Homo sapiens: one gene and its partners. The protein of the gene in region 3 interacts with the protein of the main gene of each other region in a pairwise test. Each region holds a gene or a part of one and is shown on either strand. Other genes may lie near its edges. The genes, in order: TYRP1, ZNF444 and GIPC1.

Region 1 (3,749 bases), on a different chromosome or scaffold from region 3:
TCAAGCCTGCTTTCTCTCTCTTTCTTCCCTTTTCTCTCTCCAATTTACTGCATGATTTATATTACCTTTCTTTAATCTTACCTATGGATTTTATGTTTCTGTGACCTTGTCATGTTGATTTCTGCCCACTGTTGGCATTTTTGTTGGAATTTTCTGTCTTTTTAACATTATAAATCTTTGAAAATTAGGTGATATAACATAGTAGTTAAGACCAGAGAATTATTCTATGACTTTGGGCACATTTTTCCAAGTCTTAGTTTTTTTTTAATCATTAAAATGTGGATAAAAATAATACTTGCTTTACAGAATTGAAAGTTCAAAGACCACACACATAAAAAGCAATTAGCCCAAGGCCTAACTCATAGTAAGGACTCAATACATGTTCATTTAAACCCTTAGTCTACTATCTCGCACATAGAACACAATCAAATATTGTTGGCTGTTACTGTTTAGTGCTTTGTTATTTAATGCTATTTAGTCTGCAGGCCAAACTCTTCATCTCAAATGCTGAATTTGATCATCATGGTGGGAAACTTCTTTAAGGGTCAGCAGGGGTAGTTGCAGAACTAAAATATAAGGGCTAGGTAGATCTCAGCATGAATTCCAGGTTTACTAAATATCACCTGTGTGGATTTGAACTTTCTGAACCTCATCTATGACAATTAACATGTTTACCTGAAGGAGTTACTGAATTGACTAGTCATAATACCTAACACAGTTCCTAGGATATAGTGGTTGCTCAATAAATGTTTCAGAATAAAATATTGATCAGAAGTTCTGAGCTTCAACTCCAACCCTTTACATTAAACAAGTTTCTTAACCTTTCTAAGCCTCAGTTTCCTCAACTATGAAAAGAGAGGGTTGAGCTATATGATTTCCAGGTATTCCTCCAGCTCAAATGATTTAAGATTTTATTAAGAGCCTTGAGTCTCATGCAGGACTTATGAACTCATTCATATCTCCACTTACCTATGAGAACCCTCTGGTCACAGGCAGCTCCTCTCCAGCCAGGACGGCACGTCCCACAGTTGTGTCCTGAGAAATTGCCGTTGCAGTGACATGTCCTATTGAAGAAGCGCAAGGGCCAGACCTCCCGATCATCTCTGCCATCATGGGGATACTGAGGGCTGTGGGGCCGGGAGTCTGCAGTCACTGCCTCACATCTGCCCCTCCCTGATGATGAGCCACAGCGGTCTGTCCCAGGCCCAGACACAGGGGACAGGTCTGGGCAACACATACCACTTCTCAAAGCCTCAACAGTGGCACACTGTCTTGGGAATTGAGCCCGGGCCTGCTGAAAAAGTAGCAAGGGGAAGAAGATACAGCCCAGAGAGAGGAGTTTAGGAGCACTCATTCTGCTTGAAATAAGAGTGCAAAACAAAGACCTGGTTTGCAGCTCTTTGTGTAGAGAAGACTGAAGCACGTAGAGGAAAATCCAGCTGAAAAAGAGAAAGTAAAATGAGATTATGCAAGTTTTTCTTGGTACTTAAAATGGTATGCCCCCTTCCCAAACCACTTTCAAAATGGAACCCATATGTAAAATGACATTTCACACAAATAATAAAAGTGTGACATTTCACACAAATTTTACCTTTAAAATTTGGCATATATAACACCTGCATGTGTGATACCCAAATAATTAAATTCCCTGTCCTCGTCATTTTGTTTATATATATATACATACTAGATATCAGTTATCAAAAGCATGAATTAGCAGGTCACCATCATTAATTACATTTAATTTAACCTTGGAGCTGAAGGAAGAATTGGGAACAGATTTCCAGCAAGTTAATTTCTGTGATTTAAAGTCCCTTACACTAATGGAGTTTTGGCACGTGTCCACCCACTCCCCATAGGACTTCTTTCCAGTACCTCACAATCCTGAAGGATGTCTCTGATGAACTTCTCTTAGAATTGAATGTTTTATATTTGCTTGTGTTTCTTGTCCTCTCACGTCAGAACTGTTAAGTGCATGTGGATTGCTGCCTGATAATTAATCCCAAATCTGCTCACCCAAACTAGGCGGGGGGCTGGTCTTTTTTTCCACCCTTTACTAATCCTTTTCACTTCAGTGAATATTTCTGCCCTTTAAGGACTTGATCAGCACATGATTCCCTTCCAACTGATTTCCTTGTGATGCTTAAAGTTTTAAGAAAAGGCCAGAAGCACTAATTTGGAATACAAGTCAGATAAACTAGTGAGATTTGTTTACTTTGCAGAGATTTTTTTTTATTCTGTTATTCAACTGTTATTCAACATATTACCTTGCTAGAGCAACCAGGCAAGAGAAGGTATAAAGAGCATCCAAATTGGAAATGAAGAAGTCAAATTATCCTTGTTTGCTGATGATAAGATCTTATATTTGAATAAAACCTAAAGACTCCTCTAAAAAACTATTAGAGCTGACAAACAAATTCAGTAAAGTTGCAGGATACAAAATCAGCATACCAAAATCAGCAAAGTTTCCATATACCAACAGTGAAAAATGTGAAAAAGAAATAAAAAAGTAATCCCATTTACAATAGCCACACATAAAATTAAATACCTAGGAATTAACCAATGAATGAAAGGTCTCTATAATGATAACTACAAAACATTGATGAAAGAAATTGAAGAAGACACCAAATAATGGAAAAATATTATATGTTCATGGATTGGGAGAATCAAGATTGTTAAAAAGTCCGTATTACCTAAAGCAATCTACAGATTCAATGCAATTCCTATCAAAATACCAAAGACATTCTTCACAGAAACAGAAAGAAAATCCTAAAATTTATATGGAACACCAAACCTTGAAGAGGCAAAGTTATCCTAAGCAAAAATAACAAAACTGGAGGAATCATATTACTTTACTTCAAATTATACTACGGAGTGATAGTAGCAAAAACAGCATGGTACTGGCCTAAAAACAGACACATAGAGCAATGGAACAGGAGAACCCAAAAACAAAATCACACACCTACAGTAAAGACATTTTTCACCAAGATACCAAGAACATACACTGGGGAAAAGACAGTCTTTTTAATAAATGGTGCTGGCAAACTACATACCCATATGCAAAAGAATGAAACTAGGTCCCTATCTCGTTCCATATACAAAAATCAAATAAAAAATGATTTGATTAAATATTTAAATCTGAGACCTCAAACTATGAAACTACAATGAAGAAACATTGAGGAAAATCTTGAGGACATTGGTCTTGACAAAGATTTCTTGAGCAATACCACACAAGCACAGGTAGCCAAAGCAAAAATGAACAAATGGGATCACATCTAGTTAAAAATCTTCTGCACAGCAAAGAGTACAATCAATGAAGTGAAGAGACAACCCACAGAATGGGATAAGATATTTGTAAACTACCCATTTGACAAGGGATTAATATCCAGAATATATGAGAAGCTCAAAAAATTCTATAGAAAAAAATTAATAATCCAATAAAAAAATGGGCAAAATATTTGAGCAGACATTTATCAAAAGAAGACATACAAATGGCAAACAGACTTATGAAAAGATACTCAACATTATTGATCATTAGAGAAGTACAAATCAAAACTATTGTGAGATACCCTCTTACCCCAATTAAAATGGCTTATGTCCAAAATTCAGGCAATAAGAAATGTTGACAAGGATGTGGAGAAAAGGAAACCCTCATACAGCGTTGGTAGTAATGTAAATTAGTACAACCACTATGGAGCAAAGTTTGGAGTTTCCTCAAAAAACTAAAAATTGAGCTACTATATGATCCAGCA
Region 2 (3,749 bases), about 42 Mb from region 3:
GCTGGGGAGATGGGTCCCCTCTTACCATAGGGAGATGCTCAGAGAGTGAAGGAGCCACAAATGGGACCCAGATGTGACTCCAGAGTCCACACCAGTTCCACCTAGTACCCCGGCACCAGCACCCACATATGCTGGGTTAATATCATGGCTAAGAGGCTGTGGAGTCTGGCTGCCTGGCTTCAACTTCCAGCTCTGCCACTCATCAGCAGTGTGACTGTGGACGTGTGACTTACCCCCTCTGTGCTTCATTTCTCCACCTGAGACACAGGACTAACAAGAGCTCCTTCCTCTCAAGAGGCTGCTGGGAGCAGGAGTTAGAAGCAGCCTCCAAAGGCTAAGTGCTCGACAAAGACCGGTTTGTCTACTCTAGGTTCCCAACCTCGACATTAATGGCACTTGTGTCGTGGCGGGCTATCCTGTGCAACATACGATGTCTACCAGCATCTCTGCCTCTTTTCATGAGATGCCAGTAGCACTTCCCAAGTTGGAAAAACCAAAAAAAAAGTCTCCAGACATTGCCACATGTCCCCTGGGGGACAAAACCACTCCTGGTTGAGAGCCGCTGGCCCACTGGACAAATATTTACCTACGGCACAAAGGCTCTGGGGCAAATTCCAGCTCTGCCTCCTACCAGCTCTGTGTCCTTGGACGAGGTACAAGGCACCTTTTGTAATACCCTGTATCTCCATTTCGTTGACTGTAAAGTGATAGAAGGAGAACAAAAATGCTGAGAACCACACCTGGCTAGTAAGTGTCCAGTCAGACTTAGGGTTACTTTGTCGAAGTTTCCCTGCGAGGTGCCCAGGGGACACTGCTATGAACACGCACGCAGATTAAAATACTAAGTATACATTGGAATAGGCGTTAAAATCGGATATAGAGGAGGGTGACTCCATCCTGACTGGGGTAGAGGTGGCGGGGGTCAACTTCATTTGACAATAAACAGAGTTTCTAAGCACTTTACACATATTACCGAAGGTAATAATGCCTTGCAACAAGCTAAAAAGGCAGATGCTCCGCACTGAGAAAGCAGCAAAACAGAGCAACGATTCTTATCTTCAGGAATCTCACAACTCTGTAAAAGTTGCACTTGTAGAAGCAGCGCGCAAAACGAGCCACCTGCGCCGTATCTACGTTACAACAATAACCATCGTCCCCGGAAGCCCCTTCCCGCAAACCTTTCCGAAGGGGTCCGGTCCCGGCGCCCCCAGACTCCTTTGTAGGGTCCAGCTTCCCACTCAGCTTTCATCTCACAGCCCACCCTCTGCTAGGGTCCCCTTCCCCTCCCCCACCTGTCCCTCCCCCGTCCCGCCCCTCCCCCTCCCCCAGGCGCCCCTCCCCCGTCCTCTCCCTCAGCATTTCTCTCCCGCGTTCAGGACCTCGAGGATCCACGACCCCCTCCCACTATCCACCCCTCCCCCTCTCCAAGTCCCTCCCCCTCTAGTTCCCTCTCCCAGCCCCTTCCCCATCACTCAGCCCCCTTCTCCTCCCCTCCCCGCAAGTCTCCCATCTTTCCCTCCTGAGGCCCCCGGCGCCCCTCTTCCCATCCAACCTCTGGTCCCTCCCTCGTCCAACCGCCCCCACCCAATCCCTCCCTCCTTCCCCCCTCGCTCACCTCACTCTCTCAGGCGAGGCCCCCCAAGCCCCCTCACCTCCCCGCACATGCGCACAAAGCTCGCCGGGACTCCATGCCCCAGCAGGCTTTGCGCCAAACTCCCCCGTCCCCCTCCCCCAATCCCATACTCCGAGCCGCTCGTTCAGCCCAACAACTCCCCATGAAGCCCCGGCCTCACCCCGAACTACAACTCCCAGGAAGCATCGCGGCAAAGGCGGCTGCCAATTGGCCCTCGCCTGGGGACCGCCTTACTCCTGTTTGTCACCGCGTGGCGTCTTCGCCAACACTGGAACTACATTTCCCAAGATACGCGAAAGCGTCGTCTGCAGCCTATTTGGCCTTGACGGCGCAAATGTCGCGGGCTGTCTGAGCGCGACAGGCTTTGGACTACATTTCCCAGAATGCACGAGGAGGCTTCCCAGTGGTCTGCGCGCGGGCCCTGGACATGCGCAGAAGTGCCGGGAAAAAAAGAGGGAGGAGGAGGAGGAGCCATGGCGGCGTTGTTGTGGAGATCAGGGGAGGCCGGGCACCGCCGGGCATTTGGGAGGTGGGGCCTCCGGAGCTCTAGAAGCTGGCAAGCGAAGAGGAGGAGGAGGAGGAGACCAGGCTAGAGTTCTGCGCCAATCAGGAGTGCAGGCTACGTCTCCTTGACTACGGATCGCATTTTTTTTTGTCCTCCCTCTCCACCCGGGCAGAACTTAAGGGCCGATGTCGGTGCCAGGAATCAGGACGTGAGCAGGCTGCCCTCCTGTTCCGGGGTGGGCAGTGGCTCAGGAGGGGGCCAGCGCGGGGGCCTCGGTTTGGCTCTTCCTGTGTGTGAACCTGGACAGGACACCGCCCTCTCTTTAGCCTCAGTTTCCCCTGGGGTGAATTGGGGGACAGCGCTACCTGCCACGCGTCCTCGCTGTGCCCCTATTGGACAGACTACTGCCCCGTCCTGAGGCCTCAGTTTCTGCATCTCAGAACTGTGAAGAAGCATATTTGGATTTTAGAGCAGACAGACATCCTAAGAGATCAGCTGAAGTTTTTATCTAGACAGTTCCAGACCTGATTATGGCTCATACAAGCCCTACCCCAGCCCGCAGCGTATTTCCTCCTCCGTACAACAAGGATAAGAGAATCCCCCTCCCATCCTCCACCTCCCCGGCTGATCTGAAGACTCCGCGCCATAAAAACGAAGACAGTGGCTTACCCATAACAAGCATTCATTACATGGAAGTTGTTCGTCTTATATTCATAAATGAACAACTTTCCCCAGGTTTCACAAGCGATGAGTGGCTGACTCAGAACTTTGTGACCAGTTTGCCCACGGTGGCCTAATCTGCCCTGGCCCACCTGTCTACCACTGTCTTCTCCTCGTGTTTAATGAGTTCCAGTCATGCCTCCTTTCTGCTCCTAGAGCACGCTGATCTTCTTCCCACTCATATCCGATGGCCTACTTGACATCTCCTCTTGGATTTCTTAATAGGCATCTCAAACCTAAGGTGGGCAGTAGATAATTTTTCACTCTCTCCCCCACCTTGCGAAGAAATTTGTTCCTTCCCATTACTCCACCATCTTAGAAAGCAAGTCCATCTTCACCCAAATGTTGAGGCCAAAAATAGAAAAGCAGCCCTTGATTCTTTTTTCTTTTTTTTTTTTTGGTTTTTTGTTTTGTTTTGTTTTGTTTTTTGATACAGGGTCTGGCTGTGTTGCCCAGGCTGGAGTGCAGTGGTGCGATCACAGCTCACTGCAACCTCCGACTCCCAGTCTCAAGTGATTCTCATGCTGCATCCTCCTGAGTAGCCAGGACTACAGGCGTGCACCACCATGCCCAGCTAATTTTTGTATTTTTAATAGAGATGGGGTTTGCCATGTTGGCCAGGCTGGTCTCGAACTCCTGGCCTCAAGTGATCTGCCTCCTCGGCCTCCCAAAATGCTGTGATTGCAAGCGTGAACCACCATGCCCAGCCAATTCCTCTTTTTCATCACCATCCACATGCAATCTATCATCAGGTCCTATTGGCTCTGTCTTCAAAATAGATGCAGAATCTGTCCACAGCTCTCCCGTCTATGGCTACCACCTGGTTTAAGTCCCCATGGCCTCTTTAGACACTGTCATGCTTCCACTCTCGCCTCTTCTGCCTCCTGCCCC
Region 3 (3,749 bases):
AAGGTCACAGGCCGGGCACGGTGGCCCATACCTGTCATGCCAGAGCTTTGGGAGGCCAAAAGCTCCTTGAAGCCAGGAGTTCCAGACCAGCCTGGGCAACAGAGAAAGATCACCTCCTTGCCAGGCGCAGTGGCTCACGCCTGTAATCCCAGCACTTTGGGAGGCCGAGGCAGGCGGATCATGAAGTCAGGAGATCGAGACCATCCTTGCTAACGTGGTGAAACCTCGTCTCTACTAAAAATACAAAAAATTAGCTGGGCATGGTGGCGGGCACTTGTAGTCCCAGCTACTCCGGAGCCTGAGACAGGAGAATGGCGTGAACCCTGGAGGTGGAGCTTGCAGTGAGCCGAGATCGCGCCACTGTACTCCAGCCTGGGTGACATAGTGAGACTCTGTCTCAAAAAAAGAAAAAAAAGAACTCCTTTCTCTCTCTCTCCCTCTCTCTGTCTCTCTCTCTCTCTCTCTCTCTCTCTCTCTCTCTCTCTATATATATATATATATATTTGTTTATTTATTTATTTATTTATTTTTTGAGACGGAGTCTATCTCTGTCACCCAGGCTGGAGTGAGTGCATTGGCACGATCTCTGCTCACTGCCAACCTTCGTCTCCTGGGTTCAAGCAATTCTCCTGCCTCAGCCTACCCAGTAGCTGGTACTACAGGCGTCTGCCACCATGCCCAGCTAAGTTTTGTACTTTTAGTAGAGATGTGGTTTCACCATGTTGGCCAGGCTGGTCTCGAACTCCTGACCTCAAGTGTTCTGCTCACAGCCTCCCAAAGTGCTGGGATTACAGATGTGAGCCATCGCACCAGGCCTACAATAAAATTTAAAAAAAAAATAGTCGGGTGTGATGGTACATGCCTGTAGTTCTAGCCACTTGGGAGGCTGAGAATGGAGGATGGCTTGAGCCCAGGAGGTTAAAGCTGCAGTGAGCCATTATCGTGATCACCCCACTGCACTCCAGCCTGGGGACAGAGCAATAAGAGACCCTGACTCTTTTATTTATTTATTTTTATTATTTTTTTTTGAGACTGAGTCTTGCTCTGTTGCCCAGGCTGGAGTGCAGTGGTGCAATCTCAGCTCACTGCAATCTCTGCCTCCCAGGTTCAAGCGATTCTCTCGTCTCAACCTCTCGAGTAGCTGGGATTACAGACGCCCGCCACCACGGCCAGCTAATTTTTGTATTTTTAGTAGAGACGGGGTCTCACCATGTTGGCCAGGCTGATCTCCAACTCGTGACCTCAGGTGATCTGCCCACCTCAGCCTCCCAAAGTGCTGGGATTACAGGCGGGCACTATGGCTCATTCCTGTACTCCCAGCACTTTTGAGAGGCCGAGGCAGGAGGATTGCTTGAGTCTAGGAGTTTGAGATCACTCTGGGCAACATATTGAGACCCCTCATCTCTGCAAAAAGTGTTTTTTGTTTTTTGTTTTTTGTTTTCTGTTTTTGAGATGGAGTGTCATTCTGTCACCCAGGCAATGGCACGGTCTCAGCTCACTGCAACCTCCGCCTCCCAGGTTTCAGGCAATTCTCCTGCCTCAGCCTCCTGAGTAGCTAAGACTACAGGCACATGCCACCACACCCGGCTAATTTTTGTGTTTTTTTGGTAGAGACAGGGTTTCACTATGTTGGCCAGGCTGGTCTTGAATTCCTGACCTCGTGATCCACCCGCCTCAGCCTCCCAAAGTGCTGGGATTACAGGCATGAGCCACCGCACCCGGCCTGCAAAAAGTTTTAAAACGTCAGCTGAGCATTAGGCACAGTGGTTCACGCTTTTAATCCCAGCGCTTTGGGAGGCTGAGGTGGGCGGATCACTTGAGGTCAGGAGTTCAAGACCAGCCTGGCCAACTTGGTGAAACCCCATCTCTACCAAAAATGTAGAAATTACCCCGGTGTGGTGGCACAGACATGTAATCCCAGCTTCTTGGGAGGCTGAGACAAGAGAATCGCTTGTACCCGGGAGGCAAGAGATTGCAGTGAGTGAGCTGAGATTGCACCACTGCACTCCAGCCTGGGCAACGGAGTGAGACTCAGTCTCAAAAAAAAAAAAAAAAAAAGAGTCAGGGTCTCTTCTTCAAGAATCACTTGAACCTGAGAGGCAGAGGTTGCAGTGAGTCAAGATCACACCGTTGCAATCCAGCCTAGGGGACAGAGTGAGACTCCATCTCAAAAAAATAAAATAAAGGTTAGCTGAGCTTCATGGCATGTGCCTATGGGCCCAGCTATTTGAGAGACTGAGGTGTGAGGATCCCTTGAGCCTGGGAGATCAAGGCTGCAGTGAGCTTTAATTATACCACTGCACTCCAGTCTAAGTGACAGAGCAAGACCCTGTCACAACAACAAATGAAACACACAAGGAAGGTCACAAAGCAATAATCCTAGCTGGTATTATTATTATTATTATTATTATTATTATTATTATTATTATTATTATTATTGAGACAGAGTCTTGCTCTTTTGCCCAGGGTGGAGTGCAGTGGTGTGATCTTGGCTCACTGCAACCTCTGCCTCCTGGGTTCAAGCAATTCTTATGCCTCACCCTCTTGAATCACTGAGATTACAGACATGCGCCACCATGCCTGGCTAATTTTTTTGTGTTTTTGGTAGGGATGGGATTTCGACATGTTGGTCAGGCATCTCGAACTCCTGACCTCAAGTGATCCTCCCGTCTCAGCCTCCCACAGTGCTGGGATTACAGGTGTGAGCTTTTTATTTTATTTTATTTTATTTATAGACGGAGCCTTAGTCTGTCACCCAGGCTAGAGTGCAGTGGTGCGATCTTGGGTCACCGCAACCTCCACCTCTCCAGTTCAAGCTATTCTTGTGCCTCAGCCTCCCAAGTAGCTGGGATTACAGGTGCACACCACCACACCCGGCTAATTTTTATATTTTTAGTAGAGGTGGGGTTTCACCATGTTGGCCAAGCTGGTTTCAAAGTTTTGACCTCAAGTGATCCGCCCACCTCAGCCTTCCGTAGTGGTGGGATTACAGGCGTGAGCCACCGCACCCAGCCCTATTATTACTTTTATATAAGTGTCCTGTCACTATACAAGAGATGAGGATTTCAACCGAGGCCAATTTGTTCTCTGAGTATTTCCTTGGGCCTGTATGGTTCGAGTAGTGTGGGAGGGGCACCCAAGGCCTCTGCCCAGGCCCTGAGCCCCACTTCCTGTCCTGCAGATCTTCTGGTGACCCCACTTCTCGCTGCTCATGCCGCTGGGACTGGGGCGGCGGAAAAAGGCGCCCCCTCTAGTGGAAAATGAGGAGGCTGAGCCAGGCCGTGGAGGGCTGGGCGTGGGGGAGCCAGGGCCTCTGGGCGGAGGTGGGTCGGGGGGCCCCCAAATGGGCTTGCCCCCCCCTCCCCCAGCCCTGCGGCCCCGCCTCGTGTTCCACACCCAGCTGGCCCATGGCAGTCCCACTGGCCGCATCGAGGGCTTCACCAACGTCAAGGAGCTGTATGGCAAGATCGCCGAGGCCTTCCGCCTGCCAACTGCCGAGGTATCCACTGGGGAGCCGGGCACCAGGGTCCCTGATGGTGGACCAGAGGTCTGGGCCTGCATCCTGTTCATGAGCTGGGGCTCAGATGCTGAAGCTGCAGATGCTGAGCCTGGGCCCCACTCAGTGGTGGGGGCCAATGGCCTGGGCTGGATGCTGAGTCCCCATGAGGCACTGGGAGGCTTGTGCCCCTGTGAATTGTGGGGAACTGGAGGCCAGGGCTGGATGCTGAGTTCCCATCAGGCACTGGGAG

What was found.
Region 1: the proteins of GIPC1 (region 3) and TYRP1 interact in binary tests that used the Homo sapiens proteins (3 or more experiments, as listed by UniProt).
Region 2: the proteins of GIPC1 (region 3) and ZNF444 interact in binary tests that used the Homo sapiens proteins (3 or more experiments, as listed by UniProt).

Annotation. Positions count from the first base shown.
Region 1 is NC_000009.12:12,691,602-12,695,350, reverse strand, and holds the start of TYRP1 (5,6-dihydroxyindole-2-carboxylic acid oxidase precursor), read right to left. Parts: upstream 1,967-3,749; 5' UTR 1,873-1,966; intron 1,440-1,872; 5' UTR 1,355-1,439; coding exon 970-1,354; intron 1-969. UniProt on the Homo sapiens protein: Plays a role in melanin biosynthesis. Catalyzes the oxidation of 5,6-dihydroxyindole-2-carboxylic acid (DHICA) into indole-5,6-quinone-2-carboxylic acid in the presence of bound Cu(2+) ions, but not in the presence of Zn(2+).
Region 2 is NC_000019.10:56,139,224-56,142,972, reverse strand, and holds the start of ZNF444 (zinc finger protein 444), read right to left. Parts: upstream 1,687-3,749; 5' UTR 1,616-1,686; intron 1,276-1,615; exon of another isoform or gene 741-1,275; intron 698-740; exon of another isoform or gene 1-697. UniProt on the Homo sapiens protein: Transcriptional regulator. Binds to the 5'-flanking critical region of the SCARF1 promoter.
Region 3 is NC_000019.10:14,482,439-14,486,187, reverse strand, and holds part of GIPC1 (PDZ domain-containing protein GIPC1), read left to right. Parts: intron 1-3,181; 5' UTR 3,182-3,211; coding exon 3,212-3,499; intron 3,500-3,749. UniProt on the Homo sapiens protein: May be involved in G protein-linked signaling.